Homo sapiens: one gene and its partners. The protein of the gene in region 1 interacts with the protein of each later gene in a biochemical or structural test. Each region holds a gene or a part of one and is shown on either strand. Other genes may lie near its edges.

Region 1 (7,569 bases):
CTATAAACTCCTTGAAGAAAAAAAAAATCCCTGTCTTAATTTTTGTTTCACTAGAACCTAGCCTAGTGCCCAGAGCAAATAGCTAATATAGATTTATTGAAGAAGGGGACTAATAAGTTGCATCATTATTAATAAGTAAGCTCACAAAATTGGTGACTCTTGGAGGTATTTAGTAATGATACACCAGATGCAGCAGATCACATTGTTGATAATGTGAAATAGCAAAATGCCAAGAACAAGATGACATTATAATTTTTTTCAAAATTAGAAATAGAAATATCCATTTAAATTATTTAAAAGAAAAAAATTTGTATCTAAGAATTGGTTATCAGATATTTTATTTTTTATAAGAAAAGCATTTGTGATTTTATAAGAAATAGAAAAAGTATAAATGATAAATTGCTTCTGAACAGCAACCAGGAACACAGACTGAAGGTCATATGTGATCGACTGCAGAATAGAAAGCAGTAATCTGAATTATGGACTCCACAGGGACCAACTACTGCAGGATACTGCAGATCTTCTTAAACAGGATAATGGTAGTGGACAGACGCCAGCTCTTCAGAGAATGGAATCTCTAAGAAGGAAGGGGCAACAAAGGCGATGGCCTTTGTTAACTAAAAACCAGATTGACAGAAAAATTTCTAAGAGAATGTTTGACAATGTCAAATGTGTGTGAGGAAAGAAGCCTGATATTGGAGACTCAGCTACTCATGAGTCAGAGTTAAAGAGAGGAAGGTTTTTAATTGCACTGGAATGCCTTCTGTCATTTGAAACGATCTGGATTACACAGTTTCTAAATAATCAGATGGTAAGCCAAACCTATGGAATGACTTTCAACCTTGATTAAAGAAATGAGCACAGGCCATTTAGAGATAGTAATGAGGGCAGAACGATATTTTCCGTGACACAAATAGAATACAAAACAATTTAAAACGAAGTGAACAACAGTGCTGAGATGAAGTAAGATTAATGAAATAATAGTTCAATAGAGGCTTTGCTTGTGATTCTGAATTCTAAGTTTATTAAATGTAAGCGTCAGAGAAATTTCTAGGTTATTTAATGTTATCTCAAGGTCAAATGAAGGCAAATAGTCTCACATTCACTTCCACTATTCCTAGTTTCTTCCATATTTCTTCATTTCAAGGGTTAAAAAGCCAACATTTATTCTTTACAAATTTAAATTGTGTTTGCCAGTTTTTCTTTACCTACAAAGCTGAAAGTAAACTTCTGTCTATTTTCCCTTGTGAGCTACTTCAACTGAGGCACTAAAACAGTAGCTTATATTTTGTTTGCTCTTAATTATGGAAGTTTTTTGCATCATGATACTCTGCCCTCTCCTTCTCTTTGTTGAAATCATTCCAGTTGGTTATTTTTGTCTCCTATTAAAATGAACCTGAAACCTTAGGTTTATGTGGAAGTTATGGCAATTATTATTTTAAAATCCAAGTAAATAGCTCTTTCTCTCCCAATTGTACATCCTACACATTTATTTGCACTCTGTTTAGACATGCTATATTGTACAAAGTGTGTTTCCATTATTTCCACTTACCACCAATTTGTGGGTAGGTTAGCAAAGTGTATAAGCCACTTGTGTCTGTAAATTAAGAAACAGAAAGCCTTGACAATAAACTCTAAAATTTACTTTCTCTCAAATATCCCCAGTCTCTGAGAAAATAAGTGAGTAATGGTAAATACCAATCTACACCCAACTATGTCTCTTTTTGCACATCATAGAGAAAACAAATCAGCACTGAAAGAGGTAATGCAGTATGGTTTGACTTTTTTTAAAAAATTAATTTTATTTTATTATGGTGGAAACAAATCAACAAAACTTCTCTGATTGCCTCCCAAATATTTTGCCATTTTGAAACTTGGTGTGGATGACAGTATTTTGCTCATAGCTAAATAGAATACATGTCTTATTGAGTGTTTATGATAATAGCAGACACAGGAGCAAGGTTTAAAAATTTCTCTAAGGGAGAATATTTTTATCTACTAACTTGAGTATTTAGAATAACTAGTGAATATTACAAGGGGTAATGATCAGTATAATCAGGTTGGAGATGCCCCTTGACCTAAATGCGACATTAATAGGAGAACAAATTTTCACAGTTTATCATTTACTTATATAGACTAGCTCAGTTATTAATGTCCTAATTTTATAAATATCCCTGTATGCAAAACTATGACAAGTCTACCTGTGCTGATTGTGCAGAAGTGGGATGTGAGAGTTATTCCAGGAGCTATTGCTGAGAAGAGAGAAATATCACTTTTGGGTCCTTTTGAAAGAGCTCAATGAACTGGTAACATCTCTTTAAAAATGAAGACCCTTTAAAAATAAAGAAGGGCAAATGAATCGTTTGTAATGTTTTATTCTTTGAGTTCCCTGAAGAGTAGGTGTACACACTTGTAAGAATGTCAGTTGCTTGGTTTCAGAAAGCTTGGCAGGGTTCCATTTGGAATTCAAAGACATACCTCATGAATGGAGTTTCAGATAAATTGAAAGAGTCCTAATAACTTTTCAAAATGAGAACCATGCCAATTTCTCACTGCCTAATGACATTCATCAACTCATCTCACAGAAAGGTTTGAAAAAGCTATTATCTTCAAAACATGTTTATTGTCTAGAATATGTTTTCTTTTATTTTTCCTTCCAGTATGTTTAACATGAAAATAGTGATTGGGAACTTAAGACTAACATCAATACTAGGAATTTAGTATTTCTTTTCTAGAGTCTTATTTTAACTTTTTATTGAGTAAAACTAGTTTGAAAAGTTGAGTTTTTTCCTGTTCCAGAGCCTAATTTTATTTAGGATCTGACCCATGAAAATTCTTAATGAGTTACATAAGATGTCATTCCTTCAGTTAACTACAATGAAAGATTATGAAAGTAACTGATGAATGGAGATATGAAGTGCTACGTTTTTCAAAACAATTGGAACTGCTGTGGCACTATTGACTGGAGATTCTTTGTGGGGGGCAATGTAAGGAGGGCTTTTCTCTTAGGATACCTCCTTAGACCAACCCAGAGCTCTGGGAAGCTGCTCTTGAGGATTTTGTATCTTTTCATCCCGCTAGTGGGCCTAATTTGCAGTGACCCCCTTTACCTTAAGTCATAGTATCTGCAACAAGGCCTCATTTCTTGGGGAAGATAGCAAACTTGTAGTTAAAAGGCTCTAGGCCCAGTCCTAGATATAGGAATTGAATAAAATCATGAATGTAATCATGTAATCATTTCCTCCTTGTAAATTAAGATTTGTTACTAATTTATGTATTCAGCTGGTAAATGAGCAACTTTCTATTGTGTCAGGAATGGGGGCAGTAGATTAAGACAGAACCACTAACAGGGAGGAGGTCATTGCCTATGGAAATAGCTGTTGCAGCACTCTTCTGAGCCTGAATTTTAAAAATAACAAACATGGCTTTGCTTCATGATCTATGAAGTACCATAGGAATTCGGGAGGTCTGAAAACGAAAAGTATCAAGTTCAAGCTAAAAGATTAAACTACAAGCATTTATTAGGTTGAATATGAGAATAAAATAAAAGTGTAGTCAACCCTTGATTATTCACAGATTGGCTAGAGTTTATGATTATCAATGCCCTTCGATTCTCCTTTTGCTTCCAACTACCAACTATTGAATATTTTTTTGCTCATTAACACCTGTCTAGGAGTGGGAAGGTGAAATGCTAATCAGCCAATTTGGTTAATTGTTAGTGGCTGCTATAATCCTTTTTTTTTTAAGTTGAGATAAGGAAATACTTTACTTAAATATTGGCTGTGGACTACTAAACTTTATGTCACCTTCCCTTCCTTTTTACTGCATGGATAAATGCAGGTATTTAGTTCTTAGTAAGGTAGTAGAGAGAATTAAAAAGATAGTAATTCATCAATCCAATGTTTTTCAAGTATCACACTATAAATTCACATTACATAATTCTTATTGGCCAGTGTTCAGAAAATATTAATCTTCTACAATATGACTACTTTAAAAGAAAGCTTCAAGATTTAATAGTTGCAATTTTAAGTGTAGCCCTATATAAATAACTGCACTTGCTAAGTGGATTTGTATCAACAGGAACATAACTTCTAGAAAATTACTCAAGACTACCCTCCCTTTTGCCTGTGATAGACATTTGGGACCCTCCCCAAACCAAATAAGGGAAAGAAGAATGTTCTGAGCATTAAGAGCACTAAGAATAAATCTGAGCTCTCACGGATAAGATTACTTTCAACTCTTTATTTCATGTTTTCTGACATAGACCCCAGGATCTGTAATTATCTTAGAGAAACTGCGGGGGCTTAGATGGTACTTTGTAGTTCATTTGGTTTTTTTTGTTTGTTTGTTTGTTTTTTGCCTTTCTCTCTTTGGGGCTGAAGAGCTGGTGTGTCTGTGTGTGTGTTCCTCTAGAGTGCCAAAAAAGAAAAAAAAAAGTGCTGAAGAGTCCTAGGGAGATGAGGCTATTTTTGTTTGAAGCTGATACTTCTAGCTGAGCCACAAGTGCTGCTTGGAAAGGGCTTAGGTTGTTTCCAGGGGGAGAACTCTGCAGAGGAGAGGCAAAGTTCAACAGGACAACAAAGAAGCAGCAGAAACAGCCAGGAAAACGAAGAGCCCCCAGGTTTTGACACAGAACCCTCCACCAGAGTTCTCAAATCCCCAAATACTCTGCAAAGTGCAACTTGACGGGAACTTTTCAACTGACTTTTACTTTTGACGACCACCATGACTGAGATCACTGCTGAAGGTATTGCTACCATTTTCCGATAGTATCAAGTAAGGAAAAAAAATATGCAAATCGACAGCCACATTAACTGTCGATGTGTCCATTTAAAATGTTGCTTTAAGGTAATTGCCTTGGTCAATGATTCTATACAGGATCTGAGAAGTGGATTTAGGAGCTGAGAGGCTGCCAGATCTGTATATTGGGGGAGCAAAAAGAGATTTCTCTTAAATTTTGCATGTGGAAACTGTTCTCTGCTATACCAAAGGCCCCACTAGTTAACAGTTGTTACTCACACCTCTATAAATAGCTATGGTCATGTAACATGATGGCCGATATCTTATCCAGCAAAAATTACAAAGTTTTCAAGGATGGAGACCATGATGAACTTAAAATATTACACTAATGCTTACTTAAAATATTACACTAATGCTTACTTAAACTTAAAAAGTAATTTGAAGCATTTCTGCTTTATGATATTTTTAAATGGAGACCTTAAATTTGTTTTTCCTTTCCTACTAGGGTATGTAAAACACACATACATATATATGATTTATATACAATTTAAGACATAAGTGTTCCCATAAAATTTGTATTTATTTGACCATTAATGGAAATTCAGAGATAAAGACTGGAATTCCACAAACTTACTGTGAATCAGTATGATTTTTAAAATAAAGCAATTAAGTGTTAGAATTCTGGTTCTTTTTGTAAATTCATTCTTCATTTTCCTCTAAATGGTAAATTCTATCTTTATGTTACAATAAATATTTTCTGTTTCAATGCTTTACTGAAAGCTACATACTATAATACATATCTTCTATTTGATGGTTGCTAGTTATATATATTTATATTTCATATATACTTCATATATATATGTACGTATTTCTTAGAATGAAGGAAACCTTCAAAACTAAATTACTTTGAATACAGACACAGTCTGGTTCTAGTTGAGGTAAAACTTTTGGAGGTGGATCTAAAATTTGCTTCTGACAGCTGTAAGAAAATCAGACAGGTGGTGCTCTTAACAACTTCCAAGTTAAATGCTGTGCTGGTTTGCTTTGAATAATACAACTGAAAAATAGAATATTTGTTTTTATTTTTGAGGGTAGAAATTAGTATGGACACACAGTAATTTCTGTTGGAGATTTTTAGTCAATATTTATAAGAAGTGCCTTATTTGTACCTTGCACTGAGAAATTCAGTCTGACACCTCGTATTAATAACAATTACTGAGAGATTTCTATGTGTTAGGTATTTTGCTCAGAACGTTATGTGTGTTTACTTATTTAAAACTGACACAATTCAATTAAGTAGGCATTATTATCTCAGTTTGGCAGAAAAAGGAACTGTAACTAAAATGTTATGTGACTTGCTCAAGACCAGCATTACCAACATTTAAACCCAGCCCCTTTAAATCTTGTTTGTGTGTGTGTGTGTGTGTGTGTGTGTGTTTTCTTTTCTGTGAGAGGATATCAGGTTTACTCTTTACCAATTTTAGTTCAGAATTTGCTAACTAAATATAAATAGCATTTTTCCTATTCCTTAGATATTCTGTGTCATGTTGCTTTTAGTTTGCCTTAAAGAAAGCTATGTATAAAAACTTCTTGTTTAGCTCTGCACAAGTTATTAAGATAGCTACGAGCGTCTTAATCTTCTGTTTCTCTACCTCTGTTCAGGGTTTGGGCTCCCAGGTGATTCAGGAGGTCAGTTGACTAAACCATCTTGGGCTTGCTTGTGGATTATGTTTTGTAGAACTTGCATTTGATTCAAAAGACTTTTTACAGGAAAATTCTTGATTATGAAATAGAGCTTTTGTTTCTGCCTTTGCTCTGCGGGGGTTTAAAAGGGCCTTGGAAGACCTTCTGGAGTTACCCATAAAAATAATTACATTAGTAATAAAATTAAAAAGTAGAAATACCATCTAATTCTTGGGTGATGGTCATTTTCCACTTCCGGGCCTTAACAGTTCATAGGATCTATGTTATCTGAACATCAATTATGCATTTTTTTTTGTTTTCTGGAATGATTTATTAATAATATTTCTCAAATGAAAATTAGACTGCCAACTCAAATGAACTCATCTTTTAAGGAAGCACAGTCATTCTTTGATGATATCCAAAGTTTTTTCACACTTTGTTACTACACAGTTTCATGTTATCTTTGCAATTCTCACCTTTTGTGCCCTAGCTACAATTGTCTTCCTCCAGTCTTTTATAAAAGGTATACCTTTGTACAGTGCCTTGGTACAGGCTATTTTCTGAGCCTGAAATAGTCTTATTTTATCTCATCTGCTATATTTTTTTCAACCATTTATTTATTTATTTTATTTTTTTTAGAGCAGAATTTTTCTCTGTCACCCATATTGGAATGCAGTGGCATGATCATAGCTCACTGCAGTCTCAAACTCCTGGGTTCCAGCAATCTTTCTACCTCAGCATCAGAAGTAGTTAGGACTACAGGTGTGCACCACCATGCCTGGCTAATTTTTTTTTTATTATTATTTTTGTAAAGACACGACCTCCTTATGTTGACCAGGCTGTACTTAACTACTGGCCTCAAGCCAAGATTCTCTTGCCTCTGCCTCCCAAAACATTGGGAATACAGGCAAGAACCATCACGCCTGGGGCTTGCAATCACTTTTGGACACATTACTGAAATGTAAGCACTCTATCAGTAGACCTATGCCACCTATCAATCAATTACCTTTTCCATCCATTTATCACGCACACACACAAAACAGTTTGTGGCACTTAAGAATATAAGAGATAACTCATTACCTTAGAAAGCTCTAGTTAACTGTTCTCATCTCAAGTTTTGGGAAGACAAGGCTCATACAGATTATA
Region 2 (7,804 bases), on another chromosome or scaffold:
GGCTTTCAGGGAAAATCCTCTCCTGGCCTTTTCTACCTCTTAGAGGCTGCCTACATGCTTTGGCTGCTGGCCTGTGTCATTCCAGCCTCTGCTTCCATCCTCCATCTCCTTCTCTCACTCTGACCCTCTTGCCTCTGTTTCACAAGCATCCACCAGGATAATCCAGGCTAATCTCTCCATCTCAAGATCCGTAATTTAATCACATCTGCAAAGACTCCTTGGTCATATTAGACAACACACACACACACACACACACACACACACACACACACACACACACACACACAGGTTCTGAGGATTATACTGGACATCCTGATGGGGGGTGGGGGAATGGGAAGGCACTATTCCGCCTACCATACCCTCCATTTGGACCCTTTGATATGACCTCCATATTAGGGTTTTTTTTTTCTGTTCTTTTACTGCTACCCCTGAGAACCCTGTATTTCCCCCCTAGTTCCAGGACAAAGTAGCCCTAAGCTTTCCATTTATCTGTTCTTGTCTACTGAATTAAATTTTTCCTTCCTTCTTTCCTTCCTTCCTTCCCCTGTCCTTCCTTCCTTCCTTCTCTCTCTCTGTCTCTCCTTCTCTTGTTGCTGCTGTTAAAATACCTGGCTTTTTTTTTTTTTTTTTGAGATGGAGTCTCACTCTCTTGCCCAGGCTGGAGTGCAGTGGTGCAATCTCGGCACACTGCAGTCTCAGCCTCCCAGGCTCAAGCGATTCTCCTGCCTTAGCCTCCGAGTAGCTGGGATTACAGGCAGGTGCTATTATGCCTGTCTTTTTGTATTTTAGTAGAGATTGGGTTTCGCTATGTTGGCTAGGCTGGTCTCAAACTCCTGACCTCAGGTGATCCTCCCGCCTCAACCTCTCAAAGTGCTGGGATTCCAGGCGTGAGCCACCGGGCCCGGACACAAAGTAATGCTACAGATTTATTTAATAAGCATTTAATGAGAACTACTACTTGCTATGAGGATGCTGTGAACAGATGCTGCCCCTGAAGCAATGAGGTTCAGCGGGGAGAGGGAGAAGGATCTCCCGTGAGAGGAGTGTTTCCAAGGAGAAGTATAGTGTGTAAGGGGAGTGAGTGTCCGCTCCTGGTCTACACTGAGGGCCTCCTTGAGTAGGTGACATTTGTCAAAACCTGGAATCATATCGGTGGAGCTTTGGGGCTCTTTTTCAGGATAGCATTGATCTCTTTCTGCTCGTTTCTGTTGAGGAGTTTCCTGGTGCAGAGGAGGCAGGAAGGCTCCAGGGACCACCTGTTAAAGTTGAGAGAAAAGGAGGGCCTTGGGGTTGCTAACAGGCTTGTTTAGATCTGGCCAGAGGATGCTGGAGGCTCATGGAGCACAGGGCTCTAGACCCGAGCATTTCTGCACTCTTTCTACCAGGCCAATAGGCTGTGCTTCCTTCCAGGAACGGGAGCAAAGAAATAGGCCATTTTCTGTTTTGTCCACTGGGTGGAGTATTTTAGCCAAAGAAGGGTCCTTTGGCAGCAGTGACATTGTAGGCGATCTTTGCCTTGGAGAAGAGGCAAGCTTGGACTCGTCCGGAGTCACGCCCATCAAAACCCTCCTCCGCAGCTAACACTCATCAGACTTCATCACACTGTGTGTTGGGCTGAGGCCTATCCTGGTAAAAGAAAATCTTATAACAGATTTTAACATCTTAGAGCCAGAAAGGGGGCCTTAGGAGCTTGGTGACTCTAACCCTCTTTCACAAATTGGAAGTGCTAGGGCCCGAGCCTCAGGGCTCCTGACCTAATCACACAGGCAGGCGGAACGCAGGTCTCCTGCCTTTCTGGGGGCGGTTCTTTCTCTGAGGCACCTCAGAGGCGCCCAAATGGAGACCTGCAGACCTTCGAAGGGAGGCGTGAGCACATACGTTTCTCTTTGTAGATAAAATGGTCTGAGAGAAAAATCATTCTGCCACCTGTCAAGAATAAACAAAGTAAATGAGCTAGGTTAGATTAAGGGACTGTAGTTGGCGGCCACTCACAGTGAAGGACTGGAAATGGTTAGCAAAACAAGGGGCCTACGGCATATATTGTGACAACAATAAACATTTATTTGTATTGATTTGTGTGTTTTGTTCTACCCCTTCTTGTTTAAAAACAAAACAAAAAGTACCTACTAATGGCACATAAAAATGCACACATTTCAGCACAACCACATAAACTAGAAGTACATGACACATTGGCTTGGGGCGCAGCTAAAGCTGGAACAAAACAGCTGATTTGCAGGATGTAAGGTTGACTCAGAAATGTGTGAAGCATTCTTTGTTTAAAAAATAAATGAATTGGCTGGACCTGGTGGCTCACACCTGTAATCCTAGCACTTTGGGAGGCTAAGGCAGGCGGATCACCCGAGATTGGGAGTTCAAGACCAGCCTGACCAACATGGAGAAACCTCGTATCTAATAAAAATACAAAATTAGCCAGGCGTGATGGCACGTGCCTGTAATCCCAGCTACTCGGGAGGCTGAGGCAGAAGAATGGCTTGAACCTGGGAGGCGGAGATTGTGGTGAGCCGAGATCGCGCCATTGCACTCCAGCCTGGGCGACAAGAGCGAAACTCCATCTCAAAAAAAAAAAAAAAAAAAAAAAATTAAAGTTGGTGAGCAATAAGACAGAGGAAAAACAAAAATAGGAAAATGAAAGGCAGACAGAAAATAAGCCTGGTACGTTAAATGTAAACTATGAAAACCTACCTTTTGCTGAGAGTGGGGCATGAATGTAGACCTCATATCTACCATGGATGCTTGGGGGAAACCTGATCACCACAGCATATGTCAGTGGCTGCATGTCCTCAGGGCTGGGCTGCCTGGCCCAAATCGAGTCCATGATCTAGGGGCAGGAACTTTCCACAGCTCGGGCTTTTTGTAGTAAACCAGAGTTGAAGGCTAAACTAAAGTTTAAAAAATTATTTCTTTTCCCTTATAGTTTTGTCAATTATAAGTCAGAAGGAAATTAAAAGACTCTGACTTTAAATAGCTTCCAATTTTTCAGTAACAGTTAAAAAAAACCTACTTACATATTAAGAAAAGTGGAGCAAATTCTAAATAAAGGTAACCCAGTGAGATCGAGACAACTGGGAACAGTCTGGGGAGGCTGACCTCAAAAAGACAAGACACACATTGTTTCACTCGGAAATCTTTTTCCCCTTAAATTTCCTAAAGAAAGCAGAGATCTTGCATGCTTGCCACTGACTTGGAAAGCTAAGTGCACCTTAGAATGGATATTCTTGGCTCCATCTTTTGAAAACTTAGAGACTACACCATTAGAAAGAACGGAATACCGTCAAGGGTTTTAGTGATGGGTTCTTCAAGGCCCCAACTTTCTGCACATGAGAGTGTAGCATCAAGACAACCCCTTATCAGCCTGACTCTCAGTGTAAGGCCGTCTGACTGCAGGGGAGCCTTGCTTTACTCAGAGAGGCCACGGATCTTCTCTTTGCCTTCTAGCCCCTGCAGAAGCTGTGCATGACAGAGTACTCTGTCTTTCCAAAGCTGATTTATAACTGAAGGAGAACAAAAACTTGGTCAGAATCATGAATGCCCTAGATGCCTTTGAAGAGTGGAGAGACATGACTGGACTAGGGTTGGACTGGAAGAGATGGTCAAGAAGGTACTTAAGAAAAGGGGTGTCTGCAAGGGAATCACCCAGAGTCAGAGGCAAAACAGCCAGGAGCAGCAGCTTTGAGGCAGGGTTGGATTCTTGCTCCGGCAGTTAGAAATGCTGCAAACTCAGACAAGTTGCTGTTAGCTCAGCGGTAGGATGAGCCCTGATCCCTTTTGCCCCAATTGCCTACTGGATTCAAGGAGAAAATGGACAAGAAAGGGTTCACAAACCATTCATATTAGAAACAGACAAATATCCATTATATAACCAATGTTCCACCAGCTCCAATGAGAAGTAAGTATAATAGCTACTATTTTTGAGCACCTATTTTGTGCCATGCTTTTTCATCTATGTGTTTGAAACTTTATGGTTATTATCAGCCCCACTTTACATAGAGGGGAACTGAGAATCAGAGAGGGCAAGTGACCCTCCAAAGTTCATTAGCTGTTAAAAGGCAGAGTAGGGATTTGAACTGTGAACCTTGTTTCATTTTAGTTTAATGAGGACAGGTTCTTCTGGTGTCAGCTGGGTTCAGCAGGGTGTCCCTGCACCCCTCGCCCAGTGGCTGGCAGAGGATTTTTAAGAAGAGAGGAGGGAAGGCAGAAAAAGACAGGAGTAGAACATGAAGAAGTCTACCTCGGGGCTCCATTTTGTTCCATGTTGCAGTGAGGAACAGAGGATGAACAACCACCGTGAGGGGACAGGCTGAGTTACCACCCTGGGGTGATTTAACAATTCAGTAATGTATGAGTGTCATTCCGTATGTTTGAACTCTCCATTTGCTTATTGGCACCATAGTCCCTTATCTCTCTCCCTCTCGAGTTTCTTTCTCTTCTTTGACCTTTCTAGCCTCCTTATTTCATGCGTGTACATTCTTGTCTTTTTCCTTCTGCCTCTTCCCTCTTCACCAGTCGGACAGACTGTATCAGCGAATCCCTCTACAGTGTCGTATCTAACTTTTTTATTCATTGCATGATTTATTTTTAGCCTGAAACAACTGCATCCTAAAAATGGAGTTCCTAATGAGACAGAGGCTGAGCAGAGCTATGTAAGGTATCTGGGGCTTGGCCTCCCAGCCTCCCTAGCTTGGCTGTTTTTCTACTCTCATGCGTGCGTGCGTGCGTGCGTGTGTGTGTGTGTGTGCCTCTGCTCTTTGTCCTGAGCCCACGATTCCAGAGCTGGCTGGACCCAAGGAGGTGAAGAGTCACTTTTCAGCCCCAGGAAGGGCAAAGAAGAGAGAAAATCAGCCTGTCTGCTCTCTCCTTGGCTCAACAAGGCCTCTAACAGTCTTCTGTCCTCTATTCTGCACACAGCATATTTGGGAACGAGAAACAAAAGTTTTCCCAAATGAAGAGAACTCACTTGTTTATTGTGGGGATTTATTTTCTGTCCTCTTGCAGGGCAGAAGAGGGGCTTAATTTCCCCACATATGATGGGAAGGACCGAGTGGTAAGTCTTTCCGAGAAGAACTTCAAGCAGGTTTTAAAGAAATATGACTTGCTTTGCCTCTACTACCATGAGCCGGTGTCTTCAGATAAGGTCACGCAAAAACAGTTCCAACTGAAAGAAATCGTGCTTGAGGTAAGTAACCAAAGGGCATGCTGTCTGCGCTGCCTCAGTGAGGTGCCGAGGGAATGCCTTTGGCCAGGGGTTGGGATATGGGAACGAGGATGCAGAGAATATATACTGAACTCTGCTTTATTTTGGCCTCACGTGAATCAGATGCCCTTGTCACACAGCTGGGATGTGTGAACAATGAGGGGTGGGTCCTAACTCTTCAAATGAAGAGGACCAAACGTGCTACACTACGATGGGTCTGATGTAAAGTCTTTATGGCCCCCTTGACTTTTCAAGGGCCCTTGTCCCAGCCATTGTTTCCCAGATAGAATGTAGAAACTATTGTTAAAACTGTTGGCTGAAATGAAATCCAGGGACTACTTGTGGATTTCATTCAGTGTGCCCACTTTGCTCCCTCAAATCTCCCCATGATCCTGGAGAGACCAGAGTTACTTGACCTTGCGTCTCTCTGGGGGTCAGACGGAGAATATCACTAAATGACTTTCCTCTCTCTTGTTTTGCGTCAGTCAGCATTACAGAATGTAGTTGTGTGCAGATCTTCTGAGCAGCATATTCATTTATGTGATTTTTTTTCTCAGAAAGTTCTTGGTGTGACTTTAGGGCAGAGCTGAAGTCAGTTCTTATTTTATCCGCATTACATGGCCTGCCTGTTTGTAACCTGGCACTGGGGCCCATTTTCTAATCCTTTGCGAGTGCCCCAGAAACTATTCCTGCAGCTCCTCCTGGACAGCTTAAGATGGCTTACACTTTAAGAGGGCCTGAGGGTGCCAAGAATGCTAGTGGGCACCAAGATGCCTCATCAGTCTCCACGCCTAGCCCAGGCGCAAACCTGTGAAAGGGATATTTGAGAATTACAGTTTATTAACCAGCACAATCAGAGAACTCAGGTTGATGAAATAGTTTAATAGGATTATCATATAAAACCCATGTGGATTTGAATTTTTTCAAATTGAAAAATTGACTGTAATAAAATCCAGCAAAACTATCCCAAATACATCAAAAGTATATCTCCAACCTTGGGTGCTGAATGTGGAATTTCAGTTCTCTCTGTGGGTTGCAAGAAAAGAGAAAGCAGGGATAGTTATTAAGACTTTATTTTATAGAAATGAGCAAATCACAGGCTGGAAAAGAACGAGACATAGAACTTAGCTGCTGCTTAGCACATGAAACCAACACTTACATTATATCTCCATCTCAAACTGCCATACTCAGTTATCAAGAGACATTGTTATGAAAACTTAATTGAAGGCATAAGGATTCTCCCCTATATGCTCATCGCTGTCCAGTTAGCCTAGAACTCCAAAAGAATGCCTTTGGGTGGCCAGTACAGGCAAGGACATTCATTTCTGATTCTAATTTTTTTTAAAAAAGAAATATCTTTCTATCATCCTTCTATCTATCTATCTATCTATCTATCTATCTATCTATCTATCTATCTATCTATCATCTCTAGCTCCCCCAAGTATATCTGTCCCCAAAGACTATGCAAAATCATGAACAGAAACTTCCCCTGGGCTTACCATCCCTCCAGACACCTTTGATCCAAGAGTGCCCTTTTCACAGTGGGTGCCGGCCCAGCAGAGACCGATAAGGAAAAGTTCACCACAGGAGTTAATTTGATGCCCCTCAGGCTGCTAAAGCTGGAGTGAGGCATCATTAGGAGAAAAAGAACACAGACCTTGAAGTCAGGATATCTGGATTTAAGTTCTGGCTTTGTCTCTACTAGGCACAGGACACAGGGCAAATTACGTAATTTCTCAGAGCTTCATTTTCTTATCTATAAATATGGAAAAATAGTAACTATCATGCAGCTTAAGAAATGATTAAATAATAATAATGTTGATTAAATGCTTACTAAGTGCAGGGACTGTTCTAAGCACTTGGTATGTGTTAGCTTGTTTAATCCTTACAATAATTCTATTAAGTAGGTACAGTTACCAATTCCATTTTATAGATGTGGAAACTGAAGCAGAGAGGCTAAGTTGTCCAAGGTCACACAGCTACTACAGATGAAGGCAGTTGTACGTAACACCTACACGGTACTACTCCTGAAATCAGTGCGAAAACGCCCAAGGGGCTTCTGGGTAGCCTGTTTAAGATGGTTTCAAGAGTCTTCCTTAAACAGAGTTGCTCAGCCTCTGGACCCGGGTCTGATGATGCCAGCTGTACACCAGCATGGCCGAGAAGTACATGGCCTGGAGGCGCTGCTCATGCAAAAGTGCAAACTGAGGAGGAGGCCTGGGCTCCATTAGTGAAGGTTGAGGAAGGGGCGGGCCTTTGTTGAGATACTTGTCAGGCGCAGCATCAAGGGAAAAAATGGCTCCGGGAAGTCCATGAGTGGAAAGAGCGAACATGCCTTTAAACTTTCTTCATGGTCAAAACATCTATTTTGTCCTCTTAATCCTCTAGACCCCACACTTGCACTAAGAAAAATAGTCTGTCAGCTTCCAGGGCTGTGGCTGTTAGGGGGTAGGGGGAAAAGAGGAGGCAGTTCCCAGTGTCCATCCAACAGGCAGTGTGGTCTCAGCCACGGACAAATAGCTGGAGGGGAGGCAGCTCCCTTCCCCCTCGCAGCTTAAGGCGGCTTCTGACACTTTTTATCATAACCGACTA
Region 3 (7,793 bases), on another chromosome or scaffold:
TGGTTAGATGGAAACTCTAACGCCACTTGGGAGGTACCCGCCCCTGGCCCACCCCTGCACCCTGGACGCTTCCCCAGACTCTACCCTCTTTATCTCTAACACTGAGCTCTGTATCTGCCCCCCAAACCAGCCTCCCCTCCCCTCCCCTGCCCCTGGTTTCCTTCCTTTCCCTTTTTTTCCTTTTTTTTCTTGAGGCGGAGTCTCTCTCTGTCGCCCAGGCTGGAGTGCAGTGGCGCAACCTCAGCTCACTGCAACCTCCGTCTCCCGGGTTCAAGCGATTCTCCTGCCTCGGCCTCCTGAGTAGCTGGGATTACAGGTGCGTGCCACCACGCCCGGCTAATTTTTTTGTATTTTTTAGTAGAAATGGGGTTTCACCGTGTTAGCCAGGATGGTCTCGATCTCCTGACCTCGTGTTCCGCCCACCCTGGCCTCTTAAAGTGCTGAGATTACAGGCGTGAGCCACCACACCCGGCCCTGCCCCTGGTTTTCTATCTCAGGGCGACCCCATGTCTCCCTGTCAGGGTGGGCTCAGGTGCTCTCTCCACCCGCTCTCTGCCTATTCTCCCCCTAGCCTATCAGCCCCTGTGCCATCCCTCCTTCCCCCGACTCTCTTTGCCACAGACCCCTGTCTCTGTCCCCACACCCCAAGATGCAGCTTGGGTCTTGTCCTCTCCTTCCTGGACCACTGCCCCAGCCTCCCAGCCTTCAGTCTGTCCTCACCTCACATGCCTGCAGAAGGATCTCTTTTCTTTCAGAACTGACCCTGGCCTGCCCTTGCTCTGAGCCCTCCCACAGCACCACCCCAGGGCCCCTGGGACAGATTCTGGGGACACCTTGGTGGGTGGATCTGGGCTGGGGACATACATTGCAGAAGGAGCAGTAGCCACACAGGGACCCTGGCTGGTAGTTCCCATACTCCTGAGCATCCTGTGGACCTGCGGGGACAGGAGGGCAGCAGTGACCCAGGCTGACTCGGTTCCTTCCCACCCACACCAGCCCAGGCCACTTACCTGTGTCCTCACCGCTTTCCTCCTCGCTGGAGGCACCTCCAGCCTCCTCTCTCCTGTCCAGTGGGTTGGGGATGATGGTGAAGCGGGGCTCATCTTCCTCCAGCCCCTCCTCCTCCTCCTCTTCCTCCTCGCTGTGGTCTGGGCTCAGTGGGGCCCCAACCTCAGCCCTCTCTTCCCTCCTCTCCTCGTCTTCTTCCTCCTCCTCCTCCTCCTTGTCTTCCTCTTCTTCCTCCTCCTGGTTCAGGCTGAGGCCATGACCTTCCTCCTCATCCTCCTCATCTTCCTGGTCCCGGCTGCCATGATGGGTGCCTTTCTCTCCCTGCTCTGAACTTTCATCGTCTTCCTCATGGGAGCCGGGGTCCTCTTCCTTCTCCTTTTCCTCCTCAGAATCATCCTTCCTCAAATGGCTTCTATCCTTGACCACTGTGTGTCCTGGGGGGTGATGGCTCATCTCTTTGATGGACCCTCTTTGACCATGGCCAGTTTCTTCATCTTGGTGGCTTTGCCTGTGGCTGGGGGCCTGGTGGCCAAGCTCAGCAGAGACCTCCTCATCTTCCTCCCTGGGGACTCTGTGGTGGTGATGGTGAGGGACTTCTGTTTTATACTCATCTTGGAAGTCCTCTTCATCACTCTTGTGGCCTCGAGGTTGGTGGCTTGCAACATAGTGGCCGAACTGGACTGTGATCTCCTCTTCTTCCTCTTCCTCATCTACAAGGCCATGGTGGACATGTTGGGGACCCTGGTGCCAACGTTCAGTGGACACATCCTCATCTTCTTCCTCGTCTCTGTGGCCTTGGTGCCTGTGGTCAGGGACATGATGGTGGTGTTCACCTGAGACAGCCTCAACCTCTTCCTTTCTGTGGTCTTGGTGCCTGTGGGCCTGGTGTCCATACTCAGTGGAGACATCATCATCATCATTGTCATCTTCTTCATGGCTTCGGTGCCTGTGGCTGGGGTCGCGATGATGGTGTCCATCTGAGACATCTTCATCCTCTTCAATCCCGTGGCCTTGGTGCCTGTGAGCCTGGTGTCTATATTCAATGGAGACATCATCATCATCATCATCATCATCATCATCATCATCATCATCGTCATCTTCTTCATGGCCTTGGTGCCTGTGGCTGGGGCCATGATGATGGTGTCCATCTGAGACATCCTCATCCTCTTCACTCCCATGGCCTCGGTGCCTGTGGGCCTGGTGTCCATACTCAGTGGAGGCCTCCTCTTCCTCCTCCTCCTCCTCCTCCTCCTCTTCTCCTTCATCATCTTCCCCATCATGGCCTCGGTGTCCATGCCTGAGGATATGATGGTGATGCTCACTGGACACAACTTCATCCTCATCCTCGTCTTGATGGCTGTGGCTCCTGTGGCTGGGGAGGTGGTGCCTGTGCTCAGCTGAGTCTTCCGTGTCTTCACTCCCGTGGCCTCTGTGCCCACGGGCCTGCCCACCATGCTCTGCAAAGACCTCCTCACCTGAGACACCCTCATCTCCGACTTTGTGGTCTTGGGACCTGTGGCCTGGGAGTAGGTGCCCATATTCCTTGGAGACATCTTCATCCTCCTTTTCACGGTCTGGGTGGCTCCAGAAATGATGCCCATTCTCTGTGGAAACATCCTTGTTCTCATCTGGATGGTCTCTAGGGCTGTGGAGGTGGTGGCGAAGCTCTGCTGATGCCTCCTCGGAGAGCCCGGCGACTCCAGTGCTGTTGTTCCGGTTTCTGAAGCCTAGCCCATCCCCTCTGAGCTGCTGGGTCATGGCCGGGGGGAGGAGCAGGCTGGCCACCCCAGCCCAGAGGACAGAAGCGTGCAGCCATGGCCTATGGTGGCCCATGGGGACGGACAGGCAGCACTGGCTCCAGCTGCCTCTGCGGCAATGTGGACAAACGTTGGGGTCTTTGTCCCTTTGGGGTTGGTCTCTTTTTTTCTCTGTGTCTCTCCTTTGTCCTTTCGGTCTCTGTCCACCTTCCTCTGGTCCTTGCTGCCTGGCTCTGGACACCCCTCTGAGGCTGTCTCCGGAGCCCCCTGACCCCCCTCTGGGGCCCTCCCTCCCCATTCCCCAGCCAATAGGGTCCTTCCCCTCCCCTCTCTCCAGCTAAATTTACTCTCAGCCCTGAGTTATTCTGGGTCAGTCCCCGCCTGCCTGCCTCCTGCTCCTCCTCCTCCCAGCTGGGGAGGGGACCAGTGAGGGGTCTCTCCCTGGCCAGGAGACGGTGGCCAAGGGACTTGACTTTGAACTACCAACAAGCTCACGTTTGGCAGCTGCAAAGACAAAGGCTAGACTTTTAGCAGGTTTTTGGGGGAGCCTGGGGCACCTGGGGGAGGCAGAAGAGACTTATCAGAGGGGAGAGACTCCTGGGACGGAAGGACTGGGGGTTCGATTGCGGGGTGTTTCCAGCTGGAATGATACGTGCTGGTGAGAGAGTGATGTCAGTATTGAGGCCCTAGAATGGGGGGAAAGGAACATGGCCCCCAACACACGTGCCCATGACCTCCTGTCCCTGGAACTCAGATCTGGGGGCAGGGACTGGGCTAGGCCAGGGCTATAAATACAGCTGGGAGGGGTAGGGGGACTCAGGTTACGGAGGCCACAGCTGTCCCCATCACAGAGGGCTGGCAGGAGACAAGTGGCCTTGCCCGTCTCTGTGTGTCAGTATTTCCTACTCCTCACCCTTCATGACTGCCCCCACTAGGGTCTCCTTTCCTGTTCACGGGTCCTCCTCTCTCTTCAATTCTGTCATCTGCTCTCTCAGGGTCCCTGTCCCTCCTCCATGGGATTGCCTCTCCCTCTCACTCTGGGCTTCTGTCCCACTCTTATCTTAGTGTCAGTCCTCCCCCAAGTCTGTGTCCCTCTCTCTCCCCTAAATCTCTGGCCCCTCCTTTCTGAGTTCCTGCCCTTCCCCCAATTCTTTGGTTTTTGCATCCCCCTCTGCCCCTTGCCTCAGTCAAGGTGTCTCCTCCCCATCTCTGGCATCCACCTCTCTGGGTCTCTGTCCCCACTCTCTCTCAGAGTCTCTGTCCCCCTCTGTCTCAGAGTCTCTGTCCACCTCTCCCTGGGTCTCTGTCCCCCTCTCTCTGGGTCTCTGTCCCCCTCTCCCTGGGTCTCTGTCCCCCTCTCTCTGTGGATCTCTGTCCCCCTCTCTCTGGGTCTCTGTTCCCCTCTCTCTGTGGGTCTCTGTCCCCCTCTCTCTGTGGATCTCTGTCCCCCTCTCTCTGGGTCTCTGTTCCCCTCTCTCTGTGGGTCTCTGTCCCCCTCTCTCTCTGGGTCTCTGTTCCCCTCTCTCTGGGTCTCTGTCCCCCTCTCTCAGGGTCTCTGTCCCCCTCTGTCTCAGAGTCTCTGTCCCCCTCTCTCTGGGTCTCTGTCCCCTCTCCCTGGGTCTCTGTACCCCTCTCCGTGGGTCTCTGTCCCCTCTCCCTGGGTCTCTGTCCCCCCATCCCTGGGTCTCTGTCCCCCCCTCTCTGGGTCTCTGTCCCCCTCTCTCTGGGTCTCTGTCCTCCTCTCTCTCTGGGTCTCTGTTCCCCTCTCTCTGGGTCTCTGTCCCCCTCTCTCTGGGTCTCTGTCCCCGTCTCTCTGGGTCTCTGTCCCCCTCTCTCTGGGTCTCTGTCCTCCTCTCTCTCTGGGTCTCTGTTCCCCTCTCTCTGGGTCTCTGTCCCCCTCTCTCTGGGTCTCTGTCCCCGTCTCTCTGGGTCTCTGTCCCCCTCTCTCTGGGTCTCTGTCCCCCTCTCTCTGGGTCTCTGTCCCCTCTCCCTGGGTCTCTGTCCCCCTCTCCGTGGGTCTCTGTCCCCTCTCCCTGGGTCTCTGTCCCCCCCTCCCTGGGTCTCTGTCCCCCCCTCTCTGGGTCTCTGTCCCCCCCTCTCTGGGTCTCTGTCCTCCTCTCCCTGGGTCTCTGTCCCCCTCTCTCTGTGGGTCTCTGTCCCACTCTCTCTGGGTCTCTGTCCCACTCTCTCTGGGTCTCTGTCCCCTCTCCCTGGGTCTCTGTCCCCCTCTCTCTGTGGGTCTCTGTCCCCCTCTCTCTCTGTCTATCCCTGGGTCCCTGCTGCCCCACCTTCTGATTCTCTGTCCCCTAAGTCTTTGTCTCCCCCTCTTTGGGTTAAATTGTCCCCTCCCTGTCTGGCATCCTCCTTTCTGAGTCTGTTCCCTCTCCGCCACTGGCCCCCAACTCCTTCTGTTCCCATCTCGCGCTTGCCCTTGGAGTCTCCCCTGTGTGTCTCTCTCCCCCCGGCCCGGACCTCTGCACCCCCCAGGTCGCTGTCCCTCTGTCCCCTTATCGCGGCCTGGGACCCGCCCTCTCCCCGCCTCCCGCTTTGGCGTCTCCAAGACTCCCCGCCCCCCAGACCTCGCCCCGCCCCAGGCTAGGCTGGAAAGTGGAGGATCCGGTTTGCTCTGGGCGGGTCTGGAAGCAGAGCCGGCGGAGGGAGCGCCGGGGCCCTGGGCTGCAGGAGGTTGCGGCGGCCGCGGCAGCATGGTGGTGCCGGAGAAGGAGCAGGTGAGCGCCGGACCAGGGTCTGCGGGAGCGCGGAGCTGGGGACCTCGCCTCCAGGCTCCCAGAGAGGAGGGCGCTGGACACCCAGATTCCTGGGTCAGACGGAGGAGGGGGATGGGAGGGTCCAGGTTCCAGGGTCCAGGGCATGGGGGTCGAGACTCCTGAGTCTGGAGCGGGAGGGCGCTGGGGGCCCGGACTCCTGTGTCCGTGGGGAGCGCACGGGGTGGGTGGCTCTGTGTCCCATAGGACAGAACTGGGTGCCCTCTCACCCCACTTCCACCCCTACATTTGTTCCTGTCCCCAGAGCTGGATCCCCAAGATCTTCAAGAAGAAGACCTGCACGACGTTCATAGTTGACTCCACAGATCCGGGGTGAGGAGTTCGCCCCTGGACTGACCCCAGAGGGTCCGCGGCCCGCTGACCCCGCCCGCGGATGGTCACGCCCCAGCCCTGCTCCTTCCCCATTCCTGGACTCGGGGACCTTCCCAAGGGCGTTCCTTGCCGACGCTCTCCCTCTAGGAGCGTTTGGGTCTGTGTAGACACCCCTCATTCCCCATTCGCCATTCTCCCGCTCAGGGTCAGTGTAGACGCTCCAGGGCTCGGTTCTGCTTCTTTCCTCCCCGATGTCTCTTCTATGTGCTTCTGTCTCTTCGTGTCACTTTCTGTGTCTCTGTCTTTCCCTTTTGGGTATTTCTGTTTCATTCATTCATTCATTCATTCATTCATTCATTCATCCATCCATGCAAGAAACCCTCACTCAGCGCTCCCAAGGTCCCTTTAGCCTAATTCAACGGCCCTGCCAGGGTTCCAATTTCCCCTGGGACACGTGCTGTGTGGCTTCGGGCAAATCATTTCACCTCTCTGGGTCCCGTTTCTCATCTGGGCATCAAAAGAGGCTTGATCTCCTGGGGTTATTATGAGAATTAAACAAGTTAATGCTTGTGATATTCCTGGCACAGCGCCCAGCACAGGACGCTGGGAAATATCTGCAGCTCCCACTGGGAGGTGGCAATTATTACCGCGGGCGGGCCCTGTCTTGGTGGCCGGGGACACCAATTGAGCTAGATAGGGTGTGTGCGTCCGCGAGGAGCTCCCGCCCTTCAGTGACGGCCTCTCAAGCGGATCCAGGCTTTCTAGTTTTTTTTTTTTTTTTTTTTTTTTTGAGACGGTGTCTCGCTCTGTCCCCCAGGCTGGAGTGCAGTGGCGCGATCTCGGCTCACTGCAAGCTCCGCCTCCCGGGTTCACGCCGTTTTCCTGCCTCAGCCTCCCGAGTAGCTGGGACTACAGGCGCCCGCCACCACGCCCGGCTAATTTTTTGTATTTTAGTAGAGACGGGGTTTCACCGTGTTGGCCAGGATGATCTCGATCTCCTGACCTTGTGATCCGCCCGCCTCAGCCCCTCAAAGTACTGGGATTACAGGCGTGAGCCATCGCGCTGGGCCAATTTTTTGTATTTTTTTTTTAGTAGAGACGGGGTTGCACCGTGTTAGCCAGATGGTCTCGATCTCCTGACCTCATGATCCGCCGGCCTCGGCCTCCCAAAGCGCTAGGATTACAGGTGTGAGCCACCGCACCTGGCCCAGGCTTTCTAGTTTTTTGTTTTTTGTTTTTTTGAGACAGAGTCTGGCTCTGTCGCCCAGGCTGGAGTGCAGTGTTGCGATATCAGCTCACTGCAACATCCACCTCCTGGGTTCAAGCAGTTCTCATGCCTCAGCCTCCCTAGTAGCTGGGATTACAGGTGCCTACCACCATGCCCAGCTAATTTTTTGTATTTTAGTAGAGACGGGATTTCACCCTGTTGCCCAGGTTGGTCTTGAACTCTTGATCTCAGGCAATGCACCTGCCTTGGCTTTCCAAAGTACTGGGATTACAGGTGTGAGCCACCGCGCCCAGCCCTCTAGTTGTTTTTCAAGACAGTTTTTGGGGTGCGGGAAGTATCCACATTCCTACTTCAGTGTGTATTTTGTTATGACTATATATTAGTGCAGTATGGCTTGTAAATGATGGATAAATAAACAGATATGCGCTTGTTGGACGTGAGTGCTCAAAACCTTTTTACTGATAGGTCAGTGTGGTCAAGACAATTTAGGAAACTCTGGTCTGGCCTGAGGAGGAAGAAACGCAGAAGATAATTATAGTAAGGCAAGGGGTTGCAGCTCCCAAAGACGAGCCACTGGGCTCTGTGAGAGCTGGGAGGAGGTGTTTGCTTAAGACTGGGAGGGGACACAAAATGTCACTAATGGTTTCTGGAGGGAGGAAGAGTGGCTAGTGAGGTGACATTTGAAAGTGAGCTGGAGAGAGG
Region 4 (7,211 bases), on another chromosome or scaffold:
GACCCAGAGGCCGACAGGCCTGAGGTCTCTGCCCCTGGATTAAGCCTAGGGGGCTAGCGTGGCCCCAGAGCTTTCTAGGGAGTAGCTGGGGGATCAGGTAGGGTGAGGGGAGGGAATAGAGAGGTGTAGATTCTAGCAGTATTTCTCCCCTTCTCTGACCGCAACGACTAGAGATGAGTATTCATGCCACCCCCTCTGAGCACTCTAGTAGCTGGTTCCCAGTCAAGCTCTTTAATTGCTATTACTGACCAGATGACTTCATTATTACTGACCACCCCTCCCCCATGCATGTCCAGAATCCCGTCTCAAGCCTGTGCTGCCCCCTAGTGGCTGACTGCTCTAACAACCATGGCTCTGGATGGGAGGGGTTGGAAGCGGAGTTTGCAGAGGTCTGGCCAGCCCCGCCTGTATTCCCCGACTCCCCTTCCCTCCAGCACCTAGCCATGTTTTAAGGTAAGTATAAAGAAGGCCTCCCCCACCTCTTTCTGGGATTTGAGCATGGAACTTCATAAGGAATAGAGAGGCAGAGTCTCCGAGCCATAACCCTCCCAACCTCATATTTTCTCACCCCCTCTTTTAGAATAGACATAAATCTGAGAGATTCCCAAGCCCCTCGGATCCCAAGGACTGCCTGACAGGTCCTCCGCCCTAAGCCTCCCCTTGTCTCAATGCCACCTTCCCCTCCCCTGCCCTCCCCTCTCTTACCTAGTTTCTTGGCCACAGCTGCATCCTTCTCAGAGTCTACCAGCCCGAAGCCAACACCCTTGTCTTCTAGGACTTGGGCTGCTAACTGGAGGGAAGGATTATGATTAAAATTAGCCCCTGGAATTTTTATTATCCCCTATTCTCCCTCTCATGCTTTCAAGTTGGGTCAGTTGAGGTGCGGGAGATATAAGAGTTGACCTTGACCCTTTGCTAAGATCCAGAATATCCCCCAAATTCCCTACAGCCACACAGTTCTGTTTTTGGCTCAACTTAGTTCATGAATATTGATTGCTCATTTGCAATGTGCTTATTATGTTGGACTTGAAGACACTGCACTCAATACTTCCCAGTGCCTAAGAGGTACTGAGGAGTCTGGCTTCAGAGTGACTGAGGGCCCCTTCCCTCCTTCAGGGTTGAGTCCTGCATTCCATCCTGCTCAAGTCACACCTGGAGGTCCCTGTCCCTGGTCAAGGGCCAAGCTCAGTGTGGGGTTGATCTTGGAAGTCCCTGAGATTCTTCAGAGTGACTCCCAATGGGAAGAATTTTGGAGGGTGGGAGGGTAGTGGTGGGTCTGGTCATGTTGTTGAGGAGTTGGGGAAGGCCAGAGAGCTGAGATAAGAGGTCACCATTTGTTACCCCCCAGAGGGAGAGAGACTGACAGCGACCGGACAGTTCTCCCCATCAGGGCCCAACTTTCCCCTTTCGCACTCTACTTCAGCCTGTCCTTAGGCTGTGGACAGTCACACCTGGAGGTCCCTGCCCCCATAAGCCTTCCAGCTTAGCGTTCAACCCTGATTTTCTCTGCTGTGGGCACAGCTTGCAGCTCTACCCCCACTCAGCACAGACTCAGGTACTGTGATTCTCAGAGGGGTGGGGAAGGGAGGCGGTTGGCAGGTGGATGGCCAGGGATACTGAGCACTCAGGATAAAAATACTCGGCTCATTAATCAGATGGCAGGTTCTAGCACCCAGCAGGGGTGCACAAAATGAGAGCCTGTGGTTCTGGTGTCTCACCCTGAAATGCTCCAAGCTCTGGACAAGCTGAGGCCAGAGAAGGGGCCACAGGAGCTTGGACAAGAAAACTCACATCCCATTTCCTAAAGGTGTGTGTGTATGAACACATTCCCAAACATAGGTTTTTTTTCTTTTCTTATGATAACTTCTTTCTCCTTTGGGCCTGAAGTCATTTTGGAGGTGAGGAGACTTTTCCCACAAAAAGAAGATTGGGGAAGACATTCTGACACCTCCTGCAACCATAAGAATTTTCCAGTGAGGGCATCCAGCTTATCCAATGGAGACAAATGGGGAATTAGGGAGGGGGAAGGAAGAGAGAGGGGACTGGGAGTCCAATGGGAGGCATGATCTCTAGGAGATATTTAAACATGGCATGCAAGTATCATAACATTTACATTTACACTCAGTTTGGATCTCTTTGGGGTGCAGCCCCTGAAGTATGTGGAGAGGACGTGTTCTGGCTAAGCAGATGGGTGGGGTAGGGGAGTGCAATATACACTGCTGTTCTCCCCTGGCCCTCCAAGTACCTCCCTTTTTCACCCTCAGTGTCCTAGCCAAACCTAAGTCAAATACTACCAGCCTCCTATAGCAGGGAGGGGAGCTCTTCCTGCAGCACCCCTGCTAAAGGTTTCCTGACGCTGATAGTACTTTTGGGTTCCTGAGACTCTGTTTCTCATTTGACTAAAGCCACATGCCACTTGCATCCTGTTGGTCAGGACAGGGTTCCTACCACACTGCCCCTCACCCCCAGATCCCATCCTCAAAGAGCTACATGGGTGTAGGATAGGGGATTCCGGAGAGGGGCTAGACATGCTCTGCAGGCCTGCAGTGCCCCCAACTCACCTCCAGGATCAGCTCCTCCATCTCAAATTGTCTTTGTGAGGCCTTGTCATCCTCGGGGGGTTCATGGTAGAGGAGTGCCAGCACCTCATACTTCTTGAACACATTCTTGTAGTTCTTTGCATTGACATTGATCACACGGTCCACACCATCGTACTCAGGGAAGTCCAGCCCTTCCTGCCCCTGTACCCCTGACTTGGGTGTCCCTAGCACCAGCAGCAACAGCAGTGCCAGCCGCAGACCCGGCACAGCTCTGGGCCCCATCCTGTCTGTAGCACTCATGGAGGTAGTGGGATCTGGGTTGGCTCTCCTGGTCCAGAAGAGGTTAGCTGGGGTAGGGAGGGGCCCCTGGGTCCCAGATTCTGAGTTAGGGGCTCAAGTGGGAGGGGGGATTGGGGAATGGCCCAGAGCAGTGGACAGAGGGCACTGCTGGGTCCTGGAGAAACTGCCGACAGAGCCAAGGGAAAAAGGGTCAGGTGGAGGAATAGGAGCAGGGGGCGGGGAGGGAACCGGAGCTGCCCCCTGAAATTGGCACCCCTCAGTCCCCACCTGGTCCTGTCTAAATATGTCTCCATGGTTGGCAGGAGAGACGGATAACCTTCTGAGGCCAGGACAGCTCCATGCGGGCCGGAATCCTCCCACCTCCTACACTTCTACCCCAGGCTCCCAGGGGCTCCTTCCCTCCCCCTCCTCCAGTGTCCAGGGCACCTCAGCCCCGGTCCCCACACTGGCCTAAGAGCTCATCGCCATATTAAGAAAGGAAAAGGAGAGATGCCGGAGCTAAAAATAAGACCAGATGAGTCGGAGGTAAATGAAGCTGGGGCTGGGGGAGGGGAGGTATAAGGGTAATTAGGGTGGGCCGAGGGTGGGGCAAGGGTAATTAGAAGTTAAATGCAGTGGAGAGGAGGAGCTAACTGGGTCAGAGGCTAAATTGATAATATAGGACAAAAGGGGGACAAATGTGGTATTGGCTCTATGTCCTAAAGCCTGGGAATCTTCTGTAGGTGAAGTCTGATTCTGATTCTTTGATACTATGTAGGAGAGTGGGGCGATAAAAGTGCAAGCCAGGCTGCAGGAAAGAGACCCCCTCCACTTTCTTTTAAAGAACCAGGACCAAGGATGAGGTCATTCTCTGAATAAAAGATGGAGCCGCGTCCAAGACTGGCAACCTGGCTCAGCTCCAGCCAGTTTCCTTTGCTTCACTCAGCACTCCTAACTTGGGAATGCAGGGAAGGACAGGGCTGGCCCAGATCCTGTCCTGTAGAGATGTGGGTTTGGGGTTTCTCTGCCTATAAAGCCCACAATGAGAAGGGGTCTGTCCTTTGGTTGCCACCTGTGTGTGCACTCCCTACCCTGATCCTATGGGACTCGGTTTTCTGGGGCACAGTGGGAAGGGAGGTTTTCCCAGGCTGCATGCTTCCAAGGAGAGTGAATAGCTACTATTTATTCCCATGTCTTTGACAAGACAAAGAGGATCAGGTATTGACACCAGGGCAAAAAAAAATTAACATTAGGCAAGCATGAAGAGGTGAACCCTGTGCCCTGAACCAAGACTGATGATTAATTCTGTGCACCCGAGATCCAAAGCAGAGATGGGCGGGTAGGGGCTTAAACTTCTGGATCCAGCTTGGGGGGTGAGGACAGAGTAGTGAGTTTAACTCTGGATACGTAGGAAGGAAGGATCCTCTTCATGGCCCTCCAGGGTTCTTACTATGCACAGGTAAACTGAGGCATGAGGGAGACCATAGAGGGTCAGATCAAAGTCACATGCTGCCACTGCACCCTGAGGTATCTCTGATTCTAGAGGGACAGTGGTGTTTTTTTTGTTTTGTTTTGCATCCAGGGAGGGTCATGTAATTATGTTAGCAGAATAACTTTTCCACATGTCTGTGTGGTGGACCTTACACAGCTGAACACGGAAGGCCACAGAAAATCTCAAAAGCATGGCAGGAGTGAGGCCAAGAGGGACAGCTGTCACTGTAGCAGGAGAGGTTGGAGCTAGCCTAAGCACAGCACGTTGGAGCTGAAGAGACCTCAGAAGCCCATATCCTGGTCTCCCTGAAGAGTGGCTAACGTGGGAAAGCCCCAAGGCCAGAGCAAAGGCAGCCAGGTGAGATGGGGAGGCCTGCCCAGAAGCAGATGATCTAGGTGATGTCCAGCCCTGATTTCTCACTTCTGCATTCCAGGGGAGGCGGGAGACACTGGGACAGAGACGCTGGAGCATAAAACTTGTTCCATCTTGAATCTGACCTTTTGTACCCCCAAGAGTATGAGATGGGACTCTGGTGGCGAGTCTGTTCCATCTCCTGGTCCTTTCCTACAGCTACCGGACATTGCCATCCATCCCGTTCCCTCTCGTTGCCCTCTCTGGCTCCAGTCCCACCCTTCCCCTTTCCAGCGCCCGCCCCCACTGCTCTCTCTTGATGCTTCACTCTGTCTACTTTCTACTCAGTCTCCTTCCCTTCAGGCCCTTGGACTTGAGAAGCCTCAGCCACTGGTATCAAATGACCGTGAGTTGGGGCCTCTGTATTTTTAACCCACCAGACACCTGAAGCTCCTGCTACTGAAACCTGAGGAGCTGGCCCCTCTGTGCTCCTGCTTCCCACCTCACTCACATATACCCTGGCCCACTGATCTTCCAGGGTCTGGTTCAGCGATGTCAGCAATTGGGGAAGGACCCCAGGCTGATATAGCACTGTTCCTAGGAGACCTTGTGATGGAAGAGGGAGGAGAAGAGGGAGAGAGACCTCTGAGGAGGGGCCTGATGTAGGGAAAATGGCGGGCGATACTCACGATGGCCTTCTCTTTGCTAGCTCATGGCCTCTCATCCTCCAGACCCACCCCGGGTCCTTCCCCATCACTAGCCTATTTTTTTTGTTTGCTTTGTTTTGTTTTTGTGTATTTTTGGCCCAGCCCTCACTGAAAGACTAGTCTGAAAGTGATTAAGGGCCCACGTTCTGAAAATGGACAGACCTTGGTTTCTTCTTGGGTAACATGGAGTGGGTGGTAGGGAAACATTTATGTGACTTTCTTGATGGTGTGTATATAAAACCCTCGTCCCAGTGTTAGGTGTAGTGTGCAGACACCTAGTACATATGTGTTTTGTTGTGGAAATAGCTGATGGTGTTCCCCTAGCTTTCGTTAGCATTTCTCTTCCACCCTGTACACATTTGGGAACAGCCAATGCTCTACTCTGAAAGAGGCCTGAGAATGAACTGACCCACATGGCACAGTGGAGGGGCTCACAGAGCAAAAGTGAATGAGCGGGTGAAGGGGAAGGAAGAAATGCTGAGACGAAGGTGGGCAGGAGAGAAAGGCCCTCCACGAGTTTTCACTCATCTGAGAATGCACCTGGGCCCAGGCACAGAGGCCAGGCTCTTGGGAAAGTCCATCACCCCGTGCAGAGCAGGGGCGGCTGCTTCACAGTAAAGGCCACAGGGATTCAGAAAGTCTTGTTACAGCCTCTATCTCAAGGCTACACCAGAGAAAACAGGCCGAGGGCCAGAATGGGGTTGAGGAGCCCTGATGACCGAGGGTAGAGGGCAGGGACCACCAGTATGCCTGGAGACTGTCCTTCCTACCTGTCCCTTTCTCAGATGAGGGACAACACTCAGCACATGGCCATTCCCAAGTCATTTAACCTCTCTGGACTTCAGGCTTTTCACTGATGCAATCTGATCTCTTCTAGCACCACAGCGCTGTGGTCTGCAAGCTGGTCTCAGGAACTGCAAGGTGGGGTCAGATGACTCCACCCCACCTACCCCCTGTGCGGATGCTGTGGACCCTCTTCCCACGTGTGACTTAGCTGCTCCTCTCTCCCCCACCTTCCATTTCTCTGATCTCAGCTGGAATTTTGAGGCAGTCATTTGCCCTGTCCTTGCTGTCCAGTGGCTCGGAGAGTGACTTTAAAGGGCAAGGATGCTTGATACTGATCCTATCCCAGCCTTGACTCTGGTCCTTAAAACACTTCCCCAGCCTGGTCATCATGAAGACCTGTGGAGGGAGCTTCACAGTAATCCCCACTCCCCCAAGATCAGATTTGACACATCCAGCTGGTGAGGGCTTTTCCAGACATTTACTGTCTAGACTGGCTACGGGATTCAGCAGGACCATGCCCCTCCCTGCGGGGCTCCAGCTAGATGCAGGCTGGGCTTCCCTTCAGCCCACCTCATCCTCTGCCCATGATTCCCTCAAGCCAGCCCAGGATTGCCCATCTTTCTCATCCAAGATAATTCATCCTAGTGTCTCAGATGTTGTGTCAAACTTATAATCTCTGGCCCCATCCCAGCTCTCACAACACCCCTGTGTCACATGAAGCTCTTCATCTGCTGAGTTTAGTAGTACGTCTCCCTTTCCACCCAGCCTGTGGAAGAGAAGAGGCCAGCGTGAACTGGGAGAAGGAATTAGAGGCATCCAGGGGAGACAGGCAGAAGGGAAAGCAGGGACAAGGTTGGAGGTGGGAGGTCTGGAACACAGGGCACTGAGGGTCAGATGGAGCAGAGGGGTGCAGCCAAGGGGTAGAGAGGTCTCGGCTCCAGGCGCAGTCAAGGCTGGCAGCGAGGAGGGGAGAAAGTCAGTGGTGGGTCTGGAGGGACTAGGTGGGATGGGAGAGCTAGTGAGGGGGCTGGTGACCACTCAGTCAGAGCGGGGCCC

Evidence for each region.
Region 2: the proteins of TRDN (region 1) and CASQ2 form a complex in vitro, tested with the Homo sapiens proteins (3 studies listed by BioGRID).
Region 3: the proteins of TRDN (region 1) and HRC form a complex in vitro, tested with the Homo sapiens proteins (one study listed by BioGRID).
Region 4: the proteins of TRDN (region 1) and CASQ1 form a complex in vitro, tested with the Homo sapiens proteins (one study listed by BioGRID).

The regions. Positions count from the first base shown.
Region 1 is NC_000006.12:123,633,932-123,641,500, reverse strand, and holds the start of TRDN (triadin), read left to right. Parts: upstream 1-4,550; 5' UTR 4,551-4,725; coding exon 4,726-4,747; intron 4,748-7,569. UniProt on the Homo sapiens protein: Contributes to the regulation of lumenal Ca2+ release via the sarcoplasmic reticulum calcium release channels RYR1 and RYR2, a key step in triggering skeletal and heart muscle contraction.
Region 2 is NC_000001.11:115,765,698-115,773,501, reverse strand, and holds the start of CASQ2 (calsequestrin-2 precursor), read left to right. Parts: upstream 1-4,787; 5' UTR 4,788-4,960; coding exon 4,961-5,194; intron 5,195-7,804. UniProt on the Homo sapiens protein: Calsequestrin is a high-capacity, moderate affinity, calcium-binding protein and thus acts as an internal calcium store in muscle. Calcium ions are bound by clusters of acidic residues at the protein surface, especially at the interface between subunits.
Region 3 is NC_000019.10:49,152,397-49,160,189, forward strand, and holds the start of HRC (sarcoplasmic reticulum histidine-rich calcium-binding protein precursor), read right to left. Parts: upstream 3,001-7,793; 5' UTR 2,842-3,000; coding exon 1,011-2,841; intron 936-1,010; coding exon 865-935; intron 1-864. UniProt on the Homo sapiens protein: May play a role in the regulation of calcium sequestration or release in the SR of skeletal and cardiac muscle.
Region 4 is NC_000001.11:160,186,381-160,193,591, reverse strand, and holds the start of CASQ1 (calsequestrin-1 precursor), read right to left. Parts: upstream 3,018-7,211; 5' UTR 2,841-3,017; coding exon 2,562-2,840; intron 791-2,561; coding exon 706-790; intron 1-705. Other genes in the region: ATP1A4 (sodium/potassium-transporting ATPase subunit alpha-4), read right to left, coding at 6,893-6,921. UniProt on the Homo sapiens protein: Calsequestrin is a high-capacity, moderate affinity, calcium-binding protein and thus acts as an internal calcium store in muscle. Calcium ions are bound by clusters of acidic residues at the protein surface, often at the interface between subunits.